Homo sapiens: one gene and its partners. The protein of the gene in region 2 purifies or fractionates together with the protein of the main gene of each other region. This does not show direct contact. Each region holds a gene or a part of one and is shown on either strand. Other genes may lie near its edges. The genes, in order: CLSTN1, CDHR3, PLXNB2, PYGB and EXOG.

Region 1 (3,515 bases), on a different chromosome or scaffold from region 2:
GTCCCGGGTTACACTAGCACAAAGGACACAAGGAATCCGATTTATTTACAAAATATTAAAAAGTCAGTTAATCATCTACACAGTACCCCCCATCCTGCCATTATTTATACATGCACTAGTTTGGAAAAAATAAAAACTTTTTTTAAAAAAAGAAAAAAATGATTACCGGGTGGGAGTGAGCATGTTTTACCCTTTGTCAACGAGCCCAGCTGGCATGGCTTTTCTGGAGTGCGAGGGGCCAGTGTCCTCTCCCCGGGGGGAGACTCCAGACACAAACGCGGGGCCTGAGGCGCTGGGAGGCCCCTGTGCGAGCCGGATGGCGGCCAGAGAGGACGTGTCAGCTCCTCGTGGGACTGAAGAGCGCGACCAGGCAGAGGGTGGGCGGGGAGCCTAGGGTCCTACACACCAAGCACAGCGACGATCGTGGCGGGGAGGGGTCTGCACACCTACTGGCCGAAATGACTTTGTACATCGTGGACCCTTGGGACTGGGAGAACGGATGGCAGCAGAGTCTTCGAAAGCAGAAACCGAGGTGGCCGGGGGCACGGGTCAGTAGCTGAGGGTGGAGTCATCCCACTCCAGCTGCTGCTGCCGGGTTGCGTTCTGGGGGTCGCCCTGCTCCCCCTCCTCCTCCTCGCTGCTCTCCGACTCGGCGCTGGTGATGTCATCCTCTTCTTCGCCGTCCTCGCTTTCCTCTTCCTCTTCCTCTTCCTCCTCCTCCTCACTGCTGTGCTGGTCCTCATAGGTCTGGCAAGGAGAAGTGACGGCCACATGAGTCCGGCCCTGCCCACAGCCCCGTCACCTGGCATTCTCCTCTCGACAGCCACAGAGGAAGGAGAACTTGCCCCAGCGTCTCCCTCCCCAGCGACAGAGCAGCCAGGACGGCACCGGAAGTTATATTAGAAGTGAAGGGAAAACAAAGCTCCAGTCAGCACCCACGGAGTCACCCACATACAAAGCAGCTTGGGACAGCACCTCAGCTGCCCCACCAGAGAACTCTCTCAGGATTACCATGACCCAAGAGCGCCAAGCCCTGGCATGGCTCTTCTCTACACTTAAGGCAGAACGGCCTTGAATAAGGTCTCTCTCAGCCTCGGTTTACCCACGAAGACACCTAAGCCCCAGGCTTGCTGAGCAGATGACGCGATGGAAAGCATGTGAACCTGAAGGAGCCGCGCCGTACCGGCTTCTCGGAGGCCCTGGCCTGTGCTGCCTCTCAGTCCTGGAGGTCGCCCGCCCACTCCTACCTCCATGGGGTTGACGGTGATGGTCAGGGCAGAGTCGTCCCAGTCCATCTCGTTCTCCTTCCCGGTGTCCTGATCCCGCATGGTCCGCCGATGTGCGGCCCGGATCCGAAATACCCCCAGGATAATCATGAACACCAGGAAGCTGACGCACACCACGATCACAACTGTCGCAGTGCTGGGGACGACTGTGGGAGAATGAGGGGGCGGGATGCGAGGTCACTCGGCCCAGAAGGCCACTGTGCCCTTGACCTCCTCGGCTGTGCCTGGTCAAAACGGGCTGGACAGCACGCTTCAGCTGAACCCACAGGCCAGGAGGAAATACCAGGAAAAGCTCGCCATGGGCCTCCAACCTGGCTCGGCCACGTCCTGCTCCATGGCTGCGGGTGACATCATCTGCCCTCTTCGAGGGCTTTAGTTTCCTTGTGTGTGATGGGGAATAATTGGGACAGGGAAAGACCGGCGGTCATGCTGAGCAGGAGGCTGTGCCCACGGTGGGGTGGGGGCAGGGCGGACGGCATGGAGCATCTCCGCTTGGTCTCCCTCCCCATGTCCTACCTGCGAACGGGTGGGGGTTGGCCAGGTTGTGGCCTGACAGGTCAACAAAGGAGCGGTGTTCCGGGTGCACGAACTGTGGCTGGGCAGCCATGTGGTTGGCGTGTTCCATGGGGTTGGCCGTGTGGATTACATTCACCTATAGCAGAGAAAGAGAGGATCGCTGGAGACAGGCATCCTGAGCCTGTCCAAGAGGTGACAGTGGAGTCCCGCAGCTGGCATGACCAGTGCCACTCAGAGTGGCTCCTGGACCGCAGCTGGGGGCAAACGGAGCTACGGGAAAAGGACAGAAAAAAAAATCAAGAGTAAGCACTTAAAAAACAAAAACAAAGAAAAAGAAACAAAAACCAAACAAAAAAGAGTAATAAGCACTTAGAAACTGCTATAACAATCTAATATTCTCACACATTCCAGAAATGTATCACTTTTCTACTTATTAGTATTTGTTGAGACTGGGTCTTGCTGTGTTGCCCGGGCTGGAGCGCAGTAGCTATTCACAAGCATGATCACGGCTCACTGCAGCCTGGAACTTCCCTGCTCAAGTAATCCTCCCACCTCAGCCTCTCAAGTAGCTGGGACTACAGGCAAGCACCACGCACCTGGCTGCAATCCATTTTTATTGCATTTTATAAAAGATTATGCCCAAAACAAGAGCAGAAAAAGAAGCCGATGGTCCTTCCCCATGGGTCGTTTGGGAAGCACTGGCGTAGACCTTTTTCCTCAAATCACAGCCGTGTGAAAGACAGCACCAATCACTGCCATGGATTTCCTTTCATATCTCTTACCCTTTGACTCAAACAAAACAGGCACCGAATTTAGCATTCTGCTCTTGAGTTCATGGTGATATTCCATTGCTAAGAGTAACTTTGGGTCAATTTTCTCCAGGCCACAGAGAGCCTGAGCGATGAAGCAGCTGCTGGATAGGTCTGTAGACGACCTCAGAGCAGGAGGAGCTACCCTCTAGCCTGTGTGGCCTGTGAGTCACCAGCGCCAGCCTCAGCAGCACTGGTCCTGCCCGTGCGGGTCCCTGCGTGAGCCCCTCTCAACCTGGGCCGAGGACTCGACTTCATTCACAGGAGGGCCAGTGACCTGGCACAGATGCAGAGAACTTTTGGTTCCCTGGATGCTGCTCTTTCTAAAACAGTGTCTTTGGCTGGGCACAGTGGCTCACGCCTGTAATCCTAGCACTTTTGGAGGCCAAGGCAAGTGGATTGCTTGAACCTGGGGGGACAAGACCAGCCTGGGCAACATAGTGAGACCTCGTCTCTAAAAATAAATAAATAAATAAAACCACATCCTCCTGTTTCTCTCATGGGAAATCTCAAGAAGCCCCAGAGGCATTAACTGCCACTTGCTCTTTGTCACCTCCCTGCAAAGTTCCTTAGGCTCCAACTCAGGCTGAGGCAGCCAGGGAAAGGGGAGCACCCCCCACCCCAGCTCACCCCAAACACAACTTGTCACTCCAACAAGCCCAGGTGTAACCTGCAGCAGGCCCCAGGCTGGAAAGGCGACCCCCTAGAATGAGCCTGTATAGCTGCCATCATGAATGCTCTGAGGTTGGCGTTTGTGAATATTAGGGCTGCAAATCAGCGCCCTCACTCACTGCTGCTATTGGCCCTGCTCAGTGGGAGCCTTGTACTCACCTCCACCTTAAATTCGTTGCTGATGTAGCGGCCATTCAGCTCTGAGCAGATGAGCTTAAACTTCCGGTCAAGC
Region 2 (3,515 bases):
TGTGGGCATGGTGTAGGGGGGAAAATGTGGGCTGAGGGGATTCAGACATCCAGGGTCAAACATGGGATGTTTGACAAATTTTTAAACAAATAGAAAGGGGTTTGATCACATAGTTGCGTGTTCTGAAATGATACAGGAACATTTTCTATCAGATTTCAGAACTACCTGTGCTTCTGATAAGCAAGACTGTTAACTTTGGGGTGTGGAATTGTTGTGTTTCTTCTTTGCATTGACTGCTAGGAAGCTCTATTCTGTTCACCATAGAAAGTTTGTAGGAATTCCTGACATAAATAGTGAAGACTATCCTTACATCTGGTTTCCACCTTATTTTCCTGCCCTCGTTTTAACATCACCCAGATTTCTTCAGTTATAAATATGCCATACACCTTTGTAAGTCACCTCAAATCTTCTTCAAAAGAAGCAGAACAGTGAAAAAAACAGATGAGTAAGTTAAGAGTTGGTCATCTGGAAAGAAGAAAACTCAGTAGGCACCTTCTTTTGTTTTTTCTTGTGGTGTCCGGATCAGCATCCTGCATGTGAGATTCATCCACGTTGTCCTGTCTAGCAGTAGTTCAGTTCTCTTCATGGTTATGTCTGGTTTCATTCTATGATTATATCACAATTTATCTATTCTACACTTGGGTGGCAGCTGCTTCAGATTTTTTACTTTTAAAAAATATACTTAAAAGTGAACTACAGGCAGGGCATGATGGCTCATGCCTGTAATGCCAGCACTTTGCCAAGGTGGGCAGATCACCTAAGGTCAGGAGTTCAAGATCAGCCTGGCCTAGATGGCAAAACCCTGTCTCTACTAAAAAATACAAAAATTAGCTTGGTGTGGTGGTGGGCACATGTAATCCCAGCTACTTGGGAGGCTGAGGTAGGGAGAACTGCTTAAACCTGAGAGGTGGAGGTTACAGTGAGTTGAGATTGTGCCACTGCACTCTAGCCTGGGTGACAAAGCAAGACTCCATCTCAGAAAAAAAAAATAAAAGTGAATTACAACACTATGAACTTTCTTGTACATGTCTTTTGGTGAACATAAACACTCACTTTTTTGCTCATATATCTAAGAGTGGGATTGCTGGAGCAATTGCTGGATCTGCCAAAGAGTTCCAAAGTGGTGGCTCTGATTCACATTCCAGCAGCAAACACTGAGAGTTGCAATTGCTCTCTATCCTTGCCAACACTTGGGATTGTCAATCCTTTTAACTTTAGCCATTCTGGTTAAAATTACTATTGAAGTGAAATCACTTTTTCCTCAAAGCTGAAACACCATCAGCCTTACAACCTACCTGCCTTGCTCCTTCCCACTTCCTATGATTGGAAGGAACTGCAGGACTCTGAGTGGGGACATACTGGAAGCCCCATCTAGACATAAAACTCAGACTTCCACCTGTAGGCATGAGCAATGAACTGGGAATAAATGGTATTATGATGGAATAGGAAATGTAACTTTCCAATGTGTGCCTAGCAGAGCCTGAGCAAGCTTCACTCGAGCTCTATGCCCTGCTGCCCAGCTGCTGCGACCCTAGTCCAGTAACCCTAAGAAAGGTCCAGGTGAGTGTTCATTAGGGAAGCACTCCCTTCCCAACTGGGGAGTCAGGTGAGAGCCTACCAGGTCCACAAGGTCCTGTGGGAGACAGACTGGATCCAGCAAATGTAGAGCTTCAGAGAGAGCAGCAGCTTGTTTACTGTGTGCCTAGTGCCAGTGTCACTTCTCAAGCAAAAGAAGCATTTGCAAAATGCCTGTCCTGGCCTAGATTGAGCGTGATTTATTAATAAGGGTTGGTTGCCAGGGAACTCCCTTGAATGGATTTAAACTTTGCAAAAGAAGGCAGAACTGTTCATTTATGCAGGTTAAAGTGAGTGAAGTGGCTGATTGCCCATTTAAGGCATTGCAAATCTGTGGGGCCCGGAGTCAAATGCTTTCCTTGGAAGCTCTCAGCTTCAATGCAAGTAAAATGAGGTTCTGAGAAGGCTGAAGGGGGACTTAATAACTGCTTATAAGCCCATTAAGAATGATTAAAAGGGCCGGGTGAGGTGGCTCATGCCTGTAATCCCAGCACTCTGGGAGGCTGAGGCAGGTGGATCACCTGAGGTCAGGAGTTTGAGACCAGCCTGGCCAACATGGTGAAACCCTGTCTCTACTAAAAAATAGAAAAATTAGCTGGACGTGTTAGCAGGCACCTGTAATCCCAGCTACTCAGGAGGCTGAGGCAAGAGAATCGCTTGAACCCAGGAGGCAGAAGTTGCAGTGGGCTGAGATTGCGCCACTGCACTCCAGCCTGGGTGACAAGGGCAAAACTCTGTGTCAAGAAAAAAAAAAAAAAAAGAATAATTAAAAGGAGAGAGTGGTGAGCAGCTGGTCTTTCTTCTCCAGTGATGACAGGGCAAGAGGGAATTGTGCTTAATGGCCAGAGAAGAGATTTAAGTCAGGCACCAAGAGGGACTTCCTGAAGCCTGGGGCCTCTCTGAAGAGCTCAGTGTCTTCTCTGGTGATAGGCAGGAAGAGCTGAGTGTCTTCCTAGTCGCAAGGCAAGCCTCGAGAAACTCAAGAAATAGGGGCAAGAGTGCGCCAGGAGGAGAGAACACCTGCTGCCCCGTTTCTTTTGTATATCCGGCTATTTGGTTCGGGGAAATCCAGAAGTCAAAGTGTCACCGGTGGAGGGTCTTGACTGCAAGTTGTCCAAGTTCTTGGAGTTTTGAACAAAGAATGGAACAAAATGCCCAGCAAAGCAGAGAAAGAATGAGGCAACGAAAGAATGAAAGCAGGGATTTATTGAAAACCAAAGTACACTCCACAGTGTGGGAACGGGCCTGAGCAAGTGACTCAAGGGCCCAGATACAGTCTTCTCAGTCCAAATACCCCTTGGAGGTTTCCCCTTGGCCACTTCATGCTCACCTCATGGAAATGAAGTAGTGGACCACAATTGGTCTGATTGGTTGCAGGAAGCAACCAATCAGAGACTGAAGTGGAGTTACAAAGGTCACGCTCCTGTGCAAACATCTGATTGGTTGCAAAAAGCAACCAATCAGAGGCTAAGGTGAAGTTACAACGTTGCAACGAAGACTCGGCTGGCAATCAGTCTGATTGGTTACAGACAGCCAATTTCCCAGCGTTGACCAGGTTTTGGGGGGAACAAAATTATCTGAATAAAATGAAGACAGCAACCGTCGTGGATTTGGTGAAAGTTTTCTCCCATCTCCCTCTCAAGGCCTTAAACAGGTATGAGTTGATTATAGCCAATGTTTACTTTTCTCATTCTGATTCATTATAAAACTGGGGTAAATACGTTCAGGAATTAGACCACGTAACAATTATAATTGTCGAAGACTTTGAAACTGCATAGTAGATTGTGACATTGGAGCTTTTTGTTGTGCTCATTAGAAAGCAGGGTCTGAAACTCAGCCTGTGTAGCAAGCACGGGTGGCTCACAAGCAGAACTGGGAAATGACACTTCTGCTCCCCAGAGCCCCCTTTCACATCTGGGGTTCTCATTGTTTGCCTTTTT
Region 3 (3,515 bases), on a different chromosome or scaffold from region 2:
GCAACTCCCCAAGCAGCATCCCCGTCACACCGCCAGGCCAGGGTGAGGCCCCTTCCCGAGCCCCCGGGTGGCCCTTCTCGGTCGCACGGGGCCCTGTGCACACGGGCTCTCGCCTCTGCTGGCCCCTGGGTGCAGGCTCTGCACAGGCACACTCCGCGGCTGCTCCGGGGGCCCAGCCTGAATGAAGCCTGTGGTGGGGTTGCTGTGCCTGTTGGGGAGGTTCTGGCTTCTTGGGCTGTCCGCAGCCACGCCCCCCAGGCCTGTAGCAAAGGTGACTTGTCTTCAGCCTGCTCCCTCATCACGTCCGGAGCGGCATGTGGGTGCCAGGCGCCAGGCCCCGTCGTCTCGGCAGACGCCCCTCACCCCTTCCTGCCATGTCCAGCTTCAGAGAGCAGGGCCGTTCCCAGAGGCTGCAGGGCCTCGCATGTGGGCCAGGGCAGGCGTCGCGCCCATGTCCCCTGAGTTTTGGGGGCAGTGGGGCCACGCAGTGACGTGGGCAGGGACCTGGCAGGTCCCACTCAGACTCCAAGGAGCCGCTGCCCTCAGTGCCTGCGGGAACAGAGGGTATGAAAGCAACCTGGACCCGGGGGAGAAAGGCAAGCCCGGTGCTGCGCCCGACACCCGAACCAAGATCTGATAGCAGGTGGCAGGTCCAGCCCAGCGTGAACGGGCGTCCTGGCAGCCCCACCCGAGATCTGATAGCAGGTGGCAGGCCCCGCCCAACATGAATGCGGGGCGTCCTGGCAGGGCCCCCTGAAGACCAGGGGTCTCCACCTTGGCCCCAGGAGTCAGCCCCAGGGGAGGCCCAGCCTGGCCCTCGGCCCTGCGGCCGCCACCTTGACACCTCCCCCTCTGCTGTCTGCAGACCACGTGGCCGTGACCATCCAGCTCCTCCTTAGACGAGGCAACATCTTCCTCACGTCCTACCAGTACCCCTTCTACGACTGCCGCCAGGCCATGAGCCTGGAGGAGAACCTGCCGTGAGTGTCTTGTGCCCATCGACCCCACCCTGCCCGTCCACCCCAGCCCTGCTCACGATCCCCTCTGGATGCAGGTGCATCTCCTGCGTGAGCAACCGCTGGACCTGCCAGTGGGACCTGCGCTACCACGAGTGCCGGGAGGCTTCGCCCAACCCTGAGGACGGCATCGTCCGTGCCCACATGGTGAGGGGCCTCGGGGCCTCAGGGGACTGTTCAGGGCATGGCTGCTCCGCTGTGCCCAGGCAGCACCTGACCAGCCTTACTCTCCCAGGAGGACAGCTGTCCCCAGTTCCTGGGACCCAGCCCCCTGGTGATCCCCATGAACCACGAGACAGATGTGAACTTCCAGGGCAAGAACCTGGACACCGTGAAGGTGCGGAGGGAGGGGTGCCGGCTGGTGACAGGCAGGCTCAGGTGCGGAGGGAGGGGTGCCGGCCGGTGACAGGCAGGCTCAGGTACGGAGGGAGGGGTGCCGGCCGGTGACAGGCAGGCTCAGGTGCGGAGGGAGGGGTGCCGGCTGTGACAGGCAGGCTCAGGTGCGGAGGGAGGGGTGCCGGCCGGTGACAGGCAGGCTCAGGTGCGGAGGGAGGGGTGCCGGCTGTGACAGGCAGGCTCAGGTGCGGAGGGAGGGGTGCCGGCCGGTGACAGGCAGGCTCAGGTGCGGAGGGAGGGGTGCCGGCCGGTGACAGGCAGGCTCAGGTACGGAGGGAGGGGGTGCCGGTTGGTGACAGGCAGGCTCAGGTGCGGAGGGAGGGGGTGCCGGCCGGTGACAGGCAGGCTCAGGTGCGGAGGGAGGGGTGCCGGCCGGTGACAGGCAGGCTCAGGTGCGGAGGGAGGGGTGCCGGCCGGTGACAGGCAGGCTCAGGTGCGGAGGGAGGGGGTGCCGGTTGGTGACAGGCAGGCTCAGGTGCGGAGGGAGGGGTGCCGGCCGGTGACAGGCAGGCTCAGGTGCGGAGGGAGGGGGTGCCGGTTGGTGACAGGCAGGCTAAGGTACGGAGGGAGGGGTGCCGGCCAGTGCTGATGGGTGTGTGGGAAGCCTGAGCTCCACCCGTGCCCCCCGACTCGGGGCCCCCACATGAGGTAGAGGGCACAGGATTTATCGGGGACAGAGGCCAGGAGGCAGCACTCGGGGGCCTTTGGATGGGCCTGAAGAGAGGCAGTGGAGGAGGCAGGCGTGTGGAGATTGAGGGGCCAGTGCCACCTCCTGAGGAGGGAGCTGTGGGGGCCACGATGTCAGGTGGGCCGGGCGATGTTCTCAGGTGTGGATGAGTGGTGGAGGTGGCCGTGGGAAACCCACAGAGGACGTTCAGAGGCTTCTGCAGACACAGGTGTTTGGGCTCAGGAGTGGCCGAGGGGTCAGCTGGCATGGTAATCTGAGGGGCGGGCATGTGTGGGGTGAGGAGAGGGCTCCCACACTGTAGGCACAGAGGAGGGGCTGCAGGGGTTCTGGGAGGAGGGCCAGGGTGCCACAGCCGCCTGTCCAGGGTCCTGACGGCATGGTCTGCAGGGTTCCTCCCTGCACGTGGGCAGTGACTTGCTCAAGTTCATGGAGCCGGTGACCATGCAGGAATCTGGGACCTTCGCCTTTCGGACCCCAAAGGTACGGCTCCAGGGCAGGCCGGCTCGGCTGCTGGACCCCAGGGCCCCGGGTGGGGTGGGGGGTCACCTTCAGGACTGTGAGGGGAGGGGCAGCAGGGAGACCCCAGGGACCAGAGCCCAGCCAGGGGCTCGCCATGCCCTGTGCTGCTGGGGAAGCCCCCTCTGCCCTCTGCCTCCCTGGGGACAGAGTGGCACAGAGCAGCGTCCATGGGGTTCCCGAACTTCCGACACCTGAAGGCCTCCCCTGCTGCCCTTGGCTGGGAAGGGACCCGGTGGCCACAGGGAGGCTGCCCTTGTGACCCCCGCCCCACGCCCCTCTGTGGGGGCAGGAAGTGCAGTGTGCCCCTGCGTGTCCCCCAGCTGTCCCACGATGCCAACGAGACGCTGCCCCTGCACCTCTACGTCAAGTCTTACGGCAAGAATATCGACAGCAAGCTCCATGGTGGGGGCCACGGGCGCAGTGGGGGGCGGGCAGGGGACGGGTGGGCACAAGGCGGTGGGTGGGGGGACAGGTGGGCGCAGTGGGGAGCAGGTCGGGGGCGGGCAGGCACGGGGTGACCACTGACGGCAGCTCTCCCCGCAGTGACCCTCTACAACTGCTCCTTTGGCCGCAGCGACTGCAGCCTGTGCCGGGCCGCTAACCCCGACTACAGGTGTGCGTGGTGCGGGGGCCAGAGCAGGTGCGTGTATGAGGCCCTGTGCAACACCACCTCCGAGTGCCCGCCGCCCGTCATCACCAGGGTGAGCCCCTCGAAGCCTGGCCTACACCTTCCCTCGTCCCTGGCATGAGCCCCTCCCTGCTCACCCGGCTCTGTGGTTTCAGATCCAGCCTGAGACGGGCCCCCTGGGTGGGGGCATCCGCATCACCATCCTGGGGTCCAATTTGGGCGTCCAAGCAGGGGACATCCAGAGGATCTCTGTGGCCGGCCGGAACTG
Region 4 (3,515 bases), on a different chromosome or scaffold from region 2:
CATGTAATTTTAGGTATAGGTAAGTGGCATTTCTCGGCCTACAAACAGTTAAAATGAAAGATTAAAGTAGTGTTTAAAAACGATGACTGGTAGCTCACTAGGTATAAATATAGTTTGACACGGTCCAGATCACTTAGTGTAAGTTGATTAGGCTCTGTCAGTGATAAGGAGAAGGCTCCCATCGCTTTCTGGCTCTGGATTAGTACTGAATAGACTTTTTGTGGAGCTTAATTGCATAGAAGGCGGGAGACAGTGACTTGTGGCAATGTGTGTCATGGAGTGTAGAAGGAATTTGTTTACTACAGAACCAAGTGATCTCTTAAGATCCCCATAAGTTCTAAAGTTCTATAATTCTTTTACATTTGACATTTTCAAAATTGAGCAAACAGACCTGTGTTTGAGTCGTAGGTACTGGAGTGAGAAGGAAATCCACGATCCACGTTGAGAAGCCTGCCCACTGTTCATGGGAAGCCAAGTTTCCCTGGCAGTTAATTCATTAAGAAAGTACCGTGTGACATCACAGGCTGGGAGCTTGAGAGATGTGCTAGCTAATCCTCACATCCTTACAGCAGATACAGTAGTGGATTATCAGATTGCTCTGTGAGCAACTCCCCAGAAGCCCCCTCAGACACAGTGGAGTGGACACTGTGACACTGTCAAGGAAACCAAAGACCAACCTCAGCGTCTGGCAGGTGGGAGGCCCCTCAACATCTCTCCTCCCACAGGACCTCGGTTCCCCTGGATGGTATCTGAGACTGCTCAGCTCACCAGCAGGAGCCAGCAGGTCCAGCCCAGGGAGGTGGCCCCTTTGTGTCTGGAGGGGCTGGGAGCCCCCGCTCCAAGGCCTGGCTGGTGGAACGTGGTGCCCACTGGCCTCTGGCTGGCTCAGTGGCCTGTGTTCCTGTGTCTTATCAGGGCCAGCTCTGTCCATAGTGCCTGGGTGGCAGGGAGGGACACTCTGCCCTGTGAGTCACTCTGTGCCCATGTAGGAACCAGTAGAGGGCGGCTGGTCTGAGGCATGCTGGCACCGACAGAATCGAATACACAAAAGGAGAGTTGCTGTGCTTTCCTGGGGACAGGAGGGGACCGGTTTCAGACCAGATCTGCCTGTAGAATGAGGCTCTTCATCTTGGTGAAAGCAGCCGCCCAACTCTTTTTTTTTTTTTTGAGGTGGAGTTTTGCTCTTGTTGCCCAGGCTGGAGTGCAGTGGCGCGATCTCTACTCACTGCAACCTCCGCCTCCCGGGTTCAGGCGATTCTCCTGCCTCAGCCTTCCGAATAGGTGGGATTACAGGTGTGCACCACCACGCCCAGCTAGTTTTGTATTTTTAGTAGAGACGGGGTTTCATCATGTTGGCCAGGCTGGTCTTGAGCTCCTGACCTCAAGTGATATACCTGCCTCAGCCTCCCAAAGTGCTGGGATTATAGGCATGAGCCATCACACCTGGCTCCAGCTCTTTCTTTTGTTTCCCTGAATGTTGGGAAAGTTCTTTCTTTTTCCACCAGAGTATTAAGACACTAACGTTAAATGAAGACTCTAGTTAAAAATCCCTTCAGAAAAGGGAGAAAAAATTGGTGGTCTCCACAGGCCCAATTCTGTGAATCTCTGTCTGTAAAGAACAAAATGAGGCTCTGCCAGTTGGTGTTACACTCTCTTTTCAGAGTCTGTTAACTCCTAAGGTGTCTTTAGGTGATTGGTATTTGGTGTACTGTTCGTGTTGATCATATTTTCATCTATTTTTGAGCTTTATGTTTTTCTATTATTTGCCTGGTTGTGTAGGCTTTGCATGTGATAAACTCTGTTAAAAAAAAAAAAGTGGAGGGCCTGGCTTGAACCCAGGAGGTGGAGGTTGCAGTGAGCCAAGATTGCACCATTGCATTCCAGCCTGGGCAACAGAGCGAAACTCTGTCTCAAAAAAAAAAAAACAAAAACAAAAACAAAAAACAGGCTGGCTTTAGGCTACTTAACACTTGTTATGTCATATTGCAAGAAGGGACCATGGTAGAAAGATCAATGGCCCAGTTCAATCCCAGGCGGCAGGGCCTCCTTAGAGCAGAGCTGCTGAGCAGGGAGGTTAAGGGATCGTGTTGGCATTTTCAGGCTGAAGCAGGTGAGTCCAGTTCTCCAACCAGCGCTCCCTGAGCAGGGAAGCCCTGTTCATGGTTGCACAAGAGGAGCCAGAGGGGAGTGAGTGGAAAGAGGCTGTCCTGCAGCAGCAGGATTTGGGGTCATGGAAGAGCTAGGTCCCTAGGCTGTTGCTTGGACAAAGCCTATGCCTTTACATGGTTTTTTTCAGAACTGCCACTTGGCAACTTTCTAGGCTTTGCATTTCTCCTTGAAAAGTCTGGTATGGTGAGGGGAACCAGCCTTGCCTGAGTCCTAGCCTAGCCCTGTGCGAGCCCACAGGTGAATGTGGTCCTCTCAGAGGCTGAGTGACTTGCCCAGGTCACCCAGCTAGCCAGGGCAGGGAGCTGGGATGAGACCCCAGCCTGTACCATTCAAGTCTGCATTTTCTTGGCCAGCTCCTCCAGCAAGCCTCTTTTCAGTTTCATGGTTTTCACTCTGAACCATATTAAGGTAAAAGCAAAATAGACACATCTCAGCAAATGATGAAAGTTCTTAAATTGAAACAAGTTGCAGAAAAACCTCAAAGCAGCAAAACACATTGCAGTCCCCAAGGACAGAGCCTGTGGCCCGGCAGGCCCTGGGCAGTGCCTTGGGGGCTGTGCTTCAGCAGGAGGCTGCAGAACCCTCGATGTCTGCATGCAACCTGGACAATTGGAGACGCACAGGCTTCGAGTCTAGGCCCAGCACTTCCCGTGTCAGTCCTGTCCCTTACAAACAGAGATAATCAAGCTCTTGGGACATAACTGGTAAACTTTTTCCCCACAGTAGAAAAGTTCTAAGTAGAAGTTAGGAACTTTTGCAGAGAGAGCAAACTACAACCTAAAAATCCACATTTTAGCCAGGTGTGGTGGCATGCACCTGTAGTGCCAGCTGCTTGGGAGGCTGAGACGCGAGGATCACTTGAGGCCAGGAGTTTGCAGCCAGCCTGGGCAACATAGTGAGACCGTCATCTCTTAAAAAAAAATATACATTTTTAGTTAAAGGCAAAGTAAAAACATTCTGGTCATGTTCCTGGCCTGTCAGCTTTTTATAAAACCTCTTGTTAATACTTGACCCACAGTATTTTCTCAGATAGCCAGGGTCTAGTTGGGCTCAGTATGATTTCGCACTGGTTAATAAACCCTGCCTGGACAGTGCCTGTGGCTTCCTCTGCCAGAGGGGGGAGGCAGGTGCTATGGAAACCCCATAGAATATTAAGTTCGTTCAAATGTAGTGTAAATAAAATCCAGCATGATGAAAGTCCACAAGAGGCCTGACTGTGAGTGACAGCAGCAGTAGTTGTACTTATAGCGGCTATGAGGACTCATTAATTATGCTGCTGTAATTCCTGTGACGTAAAGGACTTTGGAATTTATACAGTAATGTAGAAGCCTATATTCAAATGATCA
Region 5 (4,125 bases), on a different chromosome or scaffold from region 2:
CTTTTACAAATAAATTCAAAAGAGAATACCCCAACTGAAATAGGTAAAGAATAACTTACCAAAAAAGACTAATTCACAGCATGTTAACCCTCATTGATAATCAATAAACACAAGTAAAATGAGCATTAAATTGGTAAAGCTCAGTAATGCTCACCATAGGTGAAGGTTGAGAGAGAGAAGAAACAATGATGCTAGGAGTGTAAACTTGAAGAATCTACCTAGAAACCAATTTGACATTAATTATCAAGATCTGGCAATTCTACAGGACCCTATCAAGACATAAGGACACATGAATAAACTGACACACCTGCTTACTTCTCCAGCATCATTTCACATCACCTTCCCCCTCATTCATCTACTGGCACTCTTTTAGTTCCCTAAAAGAACAAAACTCCTGTCCACATTGGGGGCCTCCGAAGATGCAAATGTTCCTTTCTTCCTAGAATGCTCTTCTCCATATCCCATGGCACATTCAACCCCTTGCCTAAGTAATTTCCGTTCACTCTTCAGTCCACTTTTCCAGAGAAGCCTTACTAATCAAAATCAGGTTCTTGTGTTATAATCTCTCATCACACTTTTTTTTTTTTTTGAGACACATTCTCCCTCTGTTGCCTAAGCTGGAGTGTGGTGCTGCGATCTTGGCTCACTGCAACCCCCACCTCCTGGGCTCAAGAGATCCTCCCATCTCAGTCCCCCAAGTAGCTGGAACCACAGAGGTGCACCACCACGCCCAGCTAATTTTTGTATTTTTTGTAGAAACGCGGTTTTGCCATGTTGGCCAGGCTCATCTCAAACTCCTGAGCTCAAACGCCTCAGCCTCCCAAAGTACTGGGATTACAGGTGTGAGCCACCACGCCCAGCCTCTCATCAAACTTTTTACTGTTCCTTAATTATACTACACTAACTTGCAATCACCTCCTTTGGAAAAATTATTGTAATTATACATCTAAAATTATTTGTTTGATGGGTCAACCCACTCTCCCAACTCAAAGTGTCACTGGGGTAGAGATCCTCTACTCTGGTCACACATAGGTCCCCAAGGGTTACCACAGTGCCAGACACATAGCAGGCACATAAATATTTGTTAAGGTAAAACTGAATGGTGCTCATTGCTGTAATATTTATGACAGAGCCTCCCAACTAGTGTGTCAAGATATGGGTATTTTCAGCCCTGAGACAGCTGGAAAGGGTCTGGCTTTCTGGCTGCCAGGCAGGGTTGATTTAACCAGTAAGTTATATAAATATAATTTTCTACATGTGCTATGATATGAAAAAGGTTGAGAATATTAATAATCATCCCTGTTTTAAATTTGGAGACATCTTTCATAAATACTGTTACTTCAGTTTTTTTATCCAACCACCTACCCATTATCTTGCTTTTGGAAATATGTTCAAGAACCCATCTAGGCACCCGCTTTGCCTGATCATAAGACAAAGCGTGATTAGTGTAACACCTTGCCTCTGTTCCAGTTAAAGGGAATCCAAATTGTTCCAAGACAGCCTTTTCTGCAGATCCTAAAAATGAAAAAAAAAAAAAAAGGGGGGGCAGAGACAAAAAAAACACACACACACAATTAGTGGCTCTTAATAATGAAAGATTATAAGGAAAAGGAGAGCGGTGTGATTTACAAAGGACTGGCTCAGAAGTCTAATCAACCAGAAAATCTCATTTTTGCAATTACTTATGAGATGAAGAAAACAGACAGTAGGCAAAGTACTGATTTGCCTATAATCAGTGAATAAAATGCAGCTACTGCATTAACTTTTGAATAAAGACTTGATCTTATTAGTCTTTCACATCAAATTTCCAAATCATCTCTGAAGCACTGATATGTGTGCTGTTGCAAGATGACAGTAAAACTGGTACTGTTTTTCCTAGTGGGAGAAACCAAGCACACATTCAGCAGTGAGTCAGTTTCGAGATAATCCTCCCCGATGCCTTCTCAAATCCTCAACCCCCCAAGGGGGTAGTTCTCTTGCTAGATGCCAAGTATCCAAAGGAGCAAGTTAAATTAGCACATCCGCAAAGTACAAGAAATGAGCTCGTGTTAATTTTTTTTTTTTTTTTGTCAAATATAAGGTACCCATTGCAACATGAGTTTTTATACACTTTGGAGGGATAGCAGGTATTCTTCAACTGAACAATGACGAAAGAAGGGCAGTTAACTCATCTACTAAAATTATGTATTAATTTATTCCTTCATTCATACTTACTGAATGCCAATTATGTACCAGGTACTGTGCTGGTTAGATGATGGAGACCAAAACAGACATAGTCTCAAGTCTTATGGAGCTAACAATCTTAGTAGAGAACACAGACATTAAAACATAGATATCGCGATGAGTAACTGGGGGGAAGAAAGTCGGGCGGCGGGGGTGGTTCTGTGCAGAAAACGAAGATGCCCGGGGGAAGGAAGGACATGAGGGAAGCTGGCGAGACGCGAGGTGGGGAAGGGAGGCCGAGCCGGGAGAATAAAGGTCAGAAACCAAGGGCCAGGCTAGGGGCCCAGCAAACGGTGAAGGCTGTCCGTCAAGGACTGCCATTCACACTCCAGGTAGGAGTCGGAGCCCGAAATCTGGGCCAGCGAAGGGAGGACGGGCCCACAGACTTACCATCCGGCTGCTTCCCTGTCAACGCTCCCTCAGCGCCCTGACTCCGGAAGAACTGCAGGGCCGCGAGCCCAGCTCCCGCAGCGCCCACTACAGCCCCAGCCACGAAGCCGCTCAGAAAACGACGGGAACCCCGGAGGCGGGAAGCGATACTCTTGATAGCCATCTTGCCCGAGGTACCGGCCTTTTACCACGGCGCATGCGCGCGCATGCCGGCCCCCGCCATCCCCCCGTCACCCCACGCCTCACCGCCCGCCAAGCTGAGGGCCTCGCACGCCCCCTGGTGACAAACCGGGATGCCTAGCGCATCCCCGCTTCATCCCTGGTCCACTGGACGGGGCGATGGATGGGGAATATGATGTCTAGAGGGCTTAGTGGTATGCTATATATAGTCATGAGAAGAAAATACCTTTAGTCTCATTTAATAGGTGAGTAAACACTTGCGCATGGTTACACTAAGGTCTCCAGAGCCGATATTCCAACTCAGGTCTATTTATTTATTTAGCGACAGGGTCTCTGTTACCCAGGCTGCAGTACAGTGGAATGATCATAGCTTACTGCGATCTCGAACTCGTGGGCTCAAGCGATCCTCCTGCCTCAGCCTCCTGAGTAGCTGGGACTACAGGCACGTGCCACATTGCCCGGCTAAATTTTTGGCGGGAGTGGGGGAGCGGTAAAGAAGGGGGTCTCCTTATGTTGCCCAGGCTGGTATCCAACTTCTGGCCTCAAGCAATCTTCCCGCCTCGGCCTCCCAAAGTGCTGTAAGTCCAGGTGTGTGTCACTGTCCCCAACCTTCTCTTTTAAATTGGAATAATAATACTTAGACCATAGCGTTCTTGTGAGGATTAAAGGAGATGACACATGTAAAATGTTTAGGGAAGTACCAGGGGCATGTCACTAAGTGCTCTATAAATGTTAGAAATGTTTGAGTCATCTCTACTCTTTGTCTTGATAGAATATAAAATCCAGATTGCTGAACGCCTGCTGGCAAAGAAAGGATAGATTTCATGGACTACCACTCACAAACAAATGAGTCTTCATTTTGCAGCATGATCTCTAGCATTCCGTGTGGACTTAGTTCTTAGCAGAAACTTCAAGTTTCCTATTTCTTAGATAACTGGTAGGAATAACTTTCATCTGATCCCACTGATGATTCACTGACCAGGAGGCCACTTCTAACAACCTACTGAAGTGTGCACATTATTTTGACAGCCTCAAATGGGAGGCTACCCCCTTGCCAGGAATACCTCTTCTGAAGGACCCTGACTGGTTAAGCTACATCAACCAGAGTCCTTCCTAGGGATTTTCGATCTAGTAGTCTCTCTGGGTAGCAAAGCTGTGACGTAAAACTCACAGGCGCAGTGGCTCATGCCTGCAATCCCAGCACTTCGGGAGGCCAAGACTGGAGGATCACCTGAGGTCAGGAATTTGAGACCAGCCTGGCCAACATGGTGAAACCCCGTCTCTACTAACAATACAAAAATCAACCAGGTGTGGTGGCGCGTGCCTGTAATC

Evidence for each region.
Region 1: the proteins of CDHR3 (region 2) and CLSTN1 purify together in Homo sapiens (affinity purification with mass spectrometry; one large-scale study listed by BioGRID and IntAct). This does not show direct contact.
Region 3: the proteins of CDHR3 (region 2) and PLXNB2 purify together in Homo sapiens (affinity purification with mass spectrometry; one large-scale study listed by BioGRID and IntAct). This does not show direct contact.
Region 4: the proteins of CDHR3 (region 2) and PYGB purify together in Homo sapiens (affinity purification with mass spectrometry; one large-scale study listed by BioGRID and IntAct). This does not show direct contact.
Region 5: the proteins of CDHR3 (region 2) and EXOG purify together in Homo sapiens (affinity purification with mass spectrometry; one large-scale study listed by BioGRID and IntAct). This does not show direct contact.

The regions. Positions count from the first base shown.
Region 1 is NC_000001.11:9,729,959-9,733,473, forward strand, and holds part of CLSTN1 (calsyntenin-1 isoform 1 precursor), read right to left. Parts: coding exon 3,443-3,515; intron 1,939-3,442; coding exon 1,803-1,938; intron 1,433-1,802; coding exon 1,248-1,432; intron 748-1,247; coding exon 550-747; 3' UTR 1-549. UniProt on the Homo sapiens protein: Postsynaptic adhesion molecule that binds to presynaptic neurexins to mediate both excitatory and inhibitory synapse formation.
Region 2 is NC_000007.14:106,032,764-106,036,278, forward strand, and holds part of CDHR3 (cadherin-related family member 3 isoform 1 precursor), read left to right. Parts: 3' UTR 1-3,515. UniProt on the Homo sapiens protein: Cadherins are calcium-dependent cell adhesion proteins.
Region 3 is NC_000022.11:50,283,638-50,287,152, reverse strand, and holds part of PLXNB2 (plexin-B2 isoform 3 precursor), read left to right. Parts: coding exon 1-42; intron 43-865; coding exon 866-980; intron 981-1,054; coding exon 1,055-1,163; intron 1,164-1,251; coding exon 1,252-1,353; intron 1,354-2,239; coding exon of another isoform or gene 2,240-2,308; intron 2,309-2,487; coding exon 2,488-2,580; intron 2,581-2,939; coding exon 2,940-3,021; intron 3,022-3,162; coding exon 3,163-3,320; intron 3,321-3,402; coding exon 3,403-3,515.
Region 4 is NC_000020.11:25,254,584-25,258,098, forward strand, and holds part of PYGB (glycogen phosphorylase, brain form), read left to right. Parts: intron 1-3,515. UniProt on the Homo sapiens protein: Glycogen phosphorylase that regulates glycogen mobilization. Phosphorylase is an important allosteric enzyme in carbohydrate metabolism. Enzymes from different sources differ in their regulatory mechanisms and in their natural substrates.
Region 5 is NC_000003.12:38,495,019-38,499,143, reverse strand, and holds the start of EXOG (nuclease EXOG, mitochondrial isoform 1 precursor), read right to left. Parts: upstream 2,805-4,125; 5' UTR 2,777-2,804; coding exon 2,614-2,776; exon of another isoform or gene 1,516-2,613; coding exon 1,366-1,515; intron 378-1,365; exon of another isoform or gene 1-377. UniProt on the Homo sapiens protein: Endo/exonuclease with nicking activity towards supercoiled DNA, a preference for single-stranded DNA and 5'-3' exonuclease activity.